Linked DNA regions of Homo sapiens. The protein of the gene in region 1 purifies or fractionates together with the protein of each later gene. This does not show direct contact. Each region holds a gene or a part of one and is shown in the gene's direction. Other genes may lie near its edges.

Region 1 (3,827 bases):
GTGAGGGGAAACTGGAATTTATATAAAATGACAGAGCTTCATCATCCGAGGAAAATGTTGAAAGCAAAAAAAAAAAAAAAAAAAAGAGGGAAATTTGTGTTGTTCTTGGAGTAAAGGCAAGGAATTTTTTTTGCCAAGAATAATGGAAAGGAGAACTTACAGAGGAAGAATTTTGAAAAAGTGCTGGAATAAAGGTAATCACTCATGCTGGGAGGAGATACATGTAAAGGGTTTATAGTGGGGAGGCTGGGACACAGTAGTAAGGAGGAGAGACTTCAGAAGAAACATTCAAAGAGCATGAGGAATGAGAGCTCCTATCTGTGACGGCTGCTTCTGTCACTCTCAGTAAACACGCTTCCAACTCTTCCTGGGCAAGCCATTCATATCCACCTTCCCAATCTTGAGTTTTTCCAGAAATCATTGAGAAAAGAAAATGCAATTCCAGAAATGAGAGACATAATATCAATTTGGGGACTGATGACACATGACCCAGGCTAAAACTGGTTGGAAAACAAATACTCTGTTTTGGGAATTGTATTAAAGTATTTGGAGTGAAATGACAGAGCTCTCTGCTGTGAATAATGGGATTGAAACCTCAACATTAGAAGAATTTGGAGAAATAATGCAATCTTTAAAATGACAGAGGAGAAATTGTTTTCCTTGTGTGAATGAGTGACATGGGTCTGAAATTATTATTAATTTACATTTGTTTAGTGTTTTACAACTGCTAACCCGTTTAAATAAAATCATAGTGTAGATAGGCCAATTTGGAGAATGATTAGTGATTTTCTTTGGGAATTACAGGGACTATTTTTTTTAATTTGTTGAGAGTTAAGACAGGTACCATTCTCTACTAGAACTGAGGAAGGATAAAAGGAACTTTGTTATGACTTGATTGCAGGAGTAGAAGCTATATTAGCAGGTGAAAAGAAATATGATATATAGAAGTAATTGGGTAGAAAGTTATTGAAAATGGTAGATTGAAAAGAATCACAAGTTTGGAATGTGGGAAGCAGTGGGGAAAATTGAGAGAATGTCTTTTAGTAAGAGTAATAAAGAGGAGAGAATTCCGAACTGTTAGGAAAGATTAAAGTATGACTCAATAGAAGAGCCCAAAGCAGTGCTGGCTAGTAGAGATATATGCAAGCCATATATGTCATTAAAAATTTTTTATTAGCCACATTAAAAAGATAAAAATAGGTAAAATTAATTTTAATTTTATTTAACTCAAGATGTCCAAAATATTATTTCAACATTAATCAATATTAACATTTTAATGATATAATTTTATATCTTCTTTTCATATTAAGTCTTCAAACTCCAGTGTTATTTTACACTTCCAGCACATCTCCATTTGGACTAGCCATGTTTCAGTTGGTCAGTAGCCACAGGTGAACAGTGGTGACCGTATTCAACATGACGGATCTAGAGAGTTTTAAGAACAGAGTTATGTGAAAGTGATGGAGGAAAAGGAGCTTTGAATTGGATAATGGGTCCTCAGTGTATTAGGAATAATGGAGAGAAGAGAGCAGGAAGCACTAAATGACAGGAGAGAACAGAATTCTGTCTTAGGTGGGATGGGCAGAGATTATCTCGTGTGTCTGACGGTTTGTGTGAGCTCTGGCTGAGAGTAATCAAAGCTAACTTGCTGTGTGCAAGATGTGGTGCAGATATGCATCACAGCAACAGTGGGTGAAAAGGACGCTATGTGCTGGGCAAATGATGAAAAGAGCCGTGAATGTGGAGAAATGTAGAAAGCTGGGCGCGGTGGCTCACGCCTGTAATCCCAACACTTTGGGAGGCCGAGATGGGCAGATCACCTGAGATTGGGAGTTTCAGACTAGCCTGACCAACATGGAGAAACCCCATCTCTACTAAAAATACAAAATTAGCCGGGCTTAGTGCCGCATGCCTGTGGTCCCAGCTACTCAGGAGGCTGAGGCAGGAGAATCACTTGAACCCAGGAGGCAGATGTTGCAGTGAGCCGAGATTGTGCCATTGCACTCCAGCCTGGGGGGCAACGAGCAAAACTCCATCTCAAAAAAAAAAAAAAAAAAGGCAGAAGAAAACTTTGAGTTGGGGGTGTCTAGAGCAATTATTCACTCAGGGGAAAAAGAAGATTGGATTGCCTGAATGCAAAAGCTTAGGAAGTGAGGAATGGTAGCTACTCCATATATATTTGTTAGATGGATGACAAAAATGTAGTGAGAGATTGACGTGAAAACTAATACCAGTATTGGGCATAGTGAAGAAAACATTTGTAGTTTAAGGTTATATAGAAGATATGGGAATATGATGGGACAAACTTGAGACATGCTGTTGTAGTAAACATTGTTTTTTTAAACTAAGCTTAAAAAGATTTGCTAATTTCTGAATACAGATTGGCAATAATAATTGAAATCATGCAAGGAGACCGGGGAGACTTCCTAGGAGCCTCGTATTCAAGTGCTGATTACCGTAAGCTAAGCACCTGAATGTAGCTAGGGAACATTTGGATGACCATTAATTAATTTCTGAATAGGTATCCATTATGATTGTCAAGATATGATATTTACTTATGAGAGGAAAACAGAAAATGATAATATGACGTGGAATTAGAGAATTATGTTGTTAGAAACAAGAGGGAGATTTTTGGGGGAAGTGATGGAGATCCAGAGTATGTTTTCCTAGAACTTTTGAGCATACAGTCAGAGTGATTGCTGCATTGACATTTATAGAAAGGCAAATACTGCATTAACTTAATGTGATTGATGGAACATTTGTTTAGGAGTTGTGACACGTGGATTCAATTCTCACCTTTGTCACTCATTAGTTGTATAATTTTGACAAGTCACTTAGTTCAATTCAGGGAACATTTATTGTCTGTCTATTACTACAGACTTAGTATATTTGAGACACAGTGGGAGATTCAAAGTCACATGACTTCTCTAGGCTTTGGTTTCCTCAGCTGGGCCAAAAGTTTTGGTTCAGATGATTTTTAATGTTCCTTTCAATTCTCTAGGCCTCAGTGTTTAAAGTAGAGCTCTCAACCTGGACTCCACAGACCTTTCATCAGGGGATCTGTTAGCTATGGGTGGGAGAAAATTTATACCTTTATTTTTTATCACTTCAACTATGAATATAGGCCAAAAATCATAGTTGTTTCAGCGTGCATGATGTTTTTGTCAGTGAAAGAAATCACAGATAGTTTGATATACATTTACAGTCTTTGGAGGGACCTTGTTTAATGAATAAAGAAACATGATTATATCACAAGTTCTGTTTTAAACTATATTTTAATATACTTGACTTCAAATGTAATACTATGTATTTTATGTTGTATGTCTAAAAGCATTATTCTAGAAAGTGTTCATAGGCTTTACCAGACTGACAAAGGACTTAAGGGCACAAAAGGGTGAAGAACCCCCTGGATCAGAGATAGACCTCAGGAGTGACAACAGGAAAATTTTATTAGGAGGATTAGAATCAGAGGCTAAGATGCCCTGTGCCATAGTGAAAGTAACCCTTCAGGGGTTGGCAGAGAGAAAGAGTCTCTAAGGTGGCACATGTAAATATGGAGATATATATAATAGATGATTAGGAGGAGGATTCTTATACTTGGAGTGGCAGGCATGAGTAGACTATACTGGGAATAATGCAGAGAGGTAATATTTGGAATAATGGGGGAAATATTTTAATTGGAAAGAAGGAAGAACATGCATTGTGAGCAAAGTGCTTTGCATTGAGAGAAATGTTACAATAGGAAGCAAGAATTCTGCCTGGGAAGTAATAGGAAAAGAAAAGTAATGGGAAAAGAAACTGATTTGGAATTAGGAAATAGAAGAGAA
Region 2 (3,827 bases), on another chromosome or scaffold:
TGGATTGGCACCAGCTGTCACCAATAAAGCTGCCCTGAACATTGTCAATCAATCCTGTTAACCAATTTGAGAATTTTTCTGGAATGCTTAGTTAGGGATGAAATTGCTGGGTTATAGGTATGAGTATGCTTGATATACTTTTCTCCAGAATGTCTACACCTGTGTGTACACCACATCTCCAGAGATAGGGGAATCTTATGTCCCTGCTAACTGCTCTCGTTATTTAATTTTCTGACATTTGCCGCCGCCGCCGCCCCCTGCCCCCAACACACACATGGTATAAAGTGGTAGTTTCTTGTTTTAAATTGAACTTTTGAATGATTTGAATTTGGGCATTTCTTTGTATCCTGAGTTATTTTGGTTTCCCGTTATGTGAATATCCTTTTCCTATGCTTTAACTACTTTTCTAATTTGTCCCTTTTTTTGGTTATCAAATTCCAGGCCATTGTCTATTCCATCGTCACTTTTGGGTATTGGAAACATCTTTCCATTCTGTAGCCTGTCTGTTGAACATAAATCTTGATTTTTATGTAATCAGATTTTTCTCCTTACGGTTATGTTCTTGGAATTTTATTTAAGAAATCTTTTTCTATCCTGAGACCACAAAAATGTCCCCACCATTTTCTTCTGTTTCATAGTTTTGCCTTGTATGTTTAATCCTTTAAGGCATGTGTAGTTCATTTTATATGGTGTGAAATAGTTCTTATTCATTTATTCAACACATATTGGTGGAGTGCCTGCTGAAGGTAGTACTCTTCAGAGTACTTTGTATATATTTGTGAACACATATTCTTGCCCTGGAAGCTTATGTTGTCCTTCAAGGTAGATCCCTACTCGGTTTCCACCTGTTTTCTTCAGCCCTCAGGATGAATTCCACAATTTTACACATAGCACCAGTTAAGGAATAGGCTTTATTGGAGAAAAGGAAGGCTTATTAGACCAGCATCAGCAAGAAAAAAAAAAACCAAAAACAGAGGGTCTTCATTTCTTCATCATCCCCAAAAAAGCCTGCTGGAGCCTGCGCATTCTGCTAGATATGCACGTGAACAGAATCTGCGCAGTCGGCTAGATGTGCTTGTGAACGGAGCCTGCGCAGTCTGCTCCATATGCATGCGTCCATCCCAGTGGAGAACCTTACCCTTTTATTGTTCGTCCTTAAAGGGCAAGCCTGAGAGCAACCTTAATTACGTGGGAAAAATTAGATCATTTTGTATCAGGCAGTCTAGATTTGGGTGCCAGCTATTTGTCAGAAAACCAGCTACCCCATAGTTGGAGATATTGAGAACTTAGGAGAGTTATAGCCCTTTCTAAAGTGGGAAGGGAGACTCAGTTTCTTAATGCTAGTGTAACAAATTATGCAAATTTAGTGGCTTAAAAACACCACCTGTTTATTATCTTACAGTTTTGGAGTCAGAAATATGAAGTAGGTCTCTGGGCTAAAATGAGGTGTTGCCAGTGCTGTTTTTCTAGAGCCTTCGAGGGAGAATCCGTTCCTTGTCTAGCTTTCAGAAGCTACCTGCATTCCTTGGCTCAAAGCTCCTTTCCTCCATCTTCAAAGCCAGTCACAGCTAACCGGCAGATCTTCACATTGAATCACTCTGGCTCTCTCTTCCAATTTCCTCTTCTACTTTTAAGGACCTTCTACTTTTATTTATTTGTTTCAAGAGATAGGGTCTCGCTGTTGCCCAGGAGGGAGTGCAGTGGCACGATCATCATTGACTGCAGCCTCGACTCCTGGTCTCAAGCGATCTTCTCACTTCAGCCTCCCAAGTAGCTAGGACAACAGTTGCACACCACCATGCCTGGCTAATTTTAAAAATGTTTTTATAGGAGACAGGTTCTTTTTATGTTGCCCAGGCTGGTCTTGAACTCATGGGTTCAAACAGTCCTCTCTCCTCGATCTCCCAGAGTATTAGGATTACAGGCATGAGGCACCGTATCTGGCCCTAGCTGCGTTTTAAAAACGATCACACTCTGGCCGTTGTATTGACTGAGAATAGACTGTGAGGGGACAAGAGTGGACACAGGGACCCCCTTTAGGAGATTGTTGCAGTACTCCAGGTAAGGGGTGGTGGTGGCTGTTGTACTGATATACGCAATACAGAGCCTATATTTGGACAACCATGGTTCATCCCCATCTGGAATGATACCTACTTAGGTTGATACACCAAAACTGTGACATGGAGCCACAAGTGGTTTAGCCTCACCTCTGAATAGCGTTCGTATGAGATGGAGCTCAAAATAAGATTGCTCTATGCAAAGCATTTGAATGCAGTGCCTGATGCTCGGCGAGTAATGGTTAATACAAATGAACATTTAAATTCTTCATTTAGTGAAATCTTGTAAGTGGGAGCACAACTCTTTTGTAAATGTCGAAATACCAAATTTAGTGGAGCGTTCCTTTTAAAGGTACGCCTCTTTTTAGATGTGGTAGTACGCTTAGAATAACTACTCAGAAGGTGCTGTGGACTGAAAGTGCGTATGGAATTCAAAGACATTCATTGACCTACTGCGAGGTAGTTAATAACAGAACCTGGTACTTAACAGTATTAACACCTCAGACATGTCCACAAAGAAATATCTATGTATATTAGCTATTTGTGTATTCTTTAGCATTTTTAAAATTCTAATGTTTTTGTATCAGTGGTTTTAAGCAATAGATAAAAATTTTACATGGGATAATTAAAAACTGAAGTAGTGGTCTGTTTAAAATAAAACCACCTCTGAAAAAATCATTAAAAATTTTCTACTGTGTGTAATCAGGGAAATAATGTGCATATCTGTAATTTGTTACTTTGTTTTGCTGTTTTATAATATTCTTGCATTTATAAGAGACATCATTTGTACCAAATCCTAGCTGATTAATTTGCATATCATTGTATCAGTGTGATACTTTGCAGTAAATTCTGCTACTAAGGTACAACTTTCAGCTGAATAAACATAGTTCATCTCCATGTTAAGCTTCAGGTTTGAATCTGTTATTGAGACTGAGTTGCTTTAATATAGTTAACAGACCCTTAACTTAATTTTGAGGTAACTTGTTGATTGCAATTGGTCCCGAAAACATCTCAGTAAATCCAGTAGATTAATGAAGTTGTCATGTCAGGTTAATAAACACCAGTTTTTTAAAAAATTAGTTTATAAATGTCATTTGTGGATTTTCTTTATTTTATTTTTCAAACAGGGTCTCTTGTCGCCCATACTGGAGTGCAGTGGTGCGATCATGGCTCACTGCAGCCTCAGCCTCCTGGGCTCAGGTGATCCTCCCACCTCAGCCTCCGAAGTATTAATAGCTGGGACTACAGGCGCGTGCCACCACGCCCTGCTCATTTTTGTATTTTTAGTAGAGACAGGATTTCGCCAAGTTACCCAGGCTGATTTCAAACTCCTGGGCTCAAGCAATCTGCCTGCCTTGGCCTCCCAAAGTCCTGGGATTAGAGACATGAGCCACCACACCCAGCTGATTTTCTTCTATATGTAAAGACTACTTCCCCCTCTTCTGCTTGGCGTTTGCTTTTTATTTGGATTGGGTCTCTACTTCTTGTGTGTCATTTCGTTTATGTGGATAGTTTTAAAATATCTTAAAAAGTCACTCTTGCAGGACTGATCCTTTGAAATACTCCAGCCATGACTAAAAGAGAAGCAGAGGAGCTGATAGAAATTGAGATTGATGGAACAGAGAAAGCAGAGTGCACAGAAGAAAGGTTGGTGTTTCTGAATTTATCATTTTTTTTCAAAATATCAATATACCTAATTAAAACCAGGAAACAAGTCATAGTTCTTTTGGACTGTCTTTTTTTAACTGTTCTCAGTATTTTAGGGAATAA

What was found.
Region 2: the proteins of GBX1 (region 1) and GABPA purify together in Homo sapiens (affinity purification with mass spectrometry; one large-scale study listed by BioGRID and IntAct). This does not show direct contact.

The regions. Positions count from the first base shown.
Region 1 is NC_000007.14:151,161,035-151,164,861, reverse strand, and holds part of GBX1 (homeobox protein GBX-1), read left to right. Parts: intron 1-3,827.
Region 2 is NC_000021.9:25,737,972-25,741,798, forward strand, and holds part of GABPA (GA-binding protein alpha chain), read left to right. Parts: intron 1-1,908; exon of another isoform or gene 1,909-2,061; intron 2,062-2,425; exon of another isoform or gene 2,426-2,516; intron 2,517-3,589; exon of another isoform or gene 3,590-3,601; 5' UTR 3,602-3,627; coding exon 3,628-3,704; intron 3,705-3,827.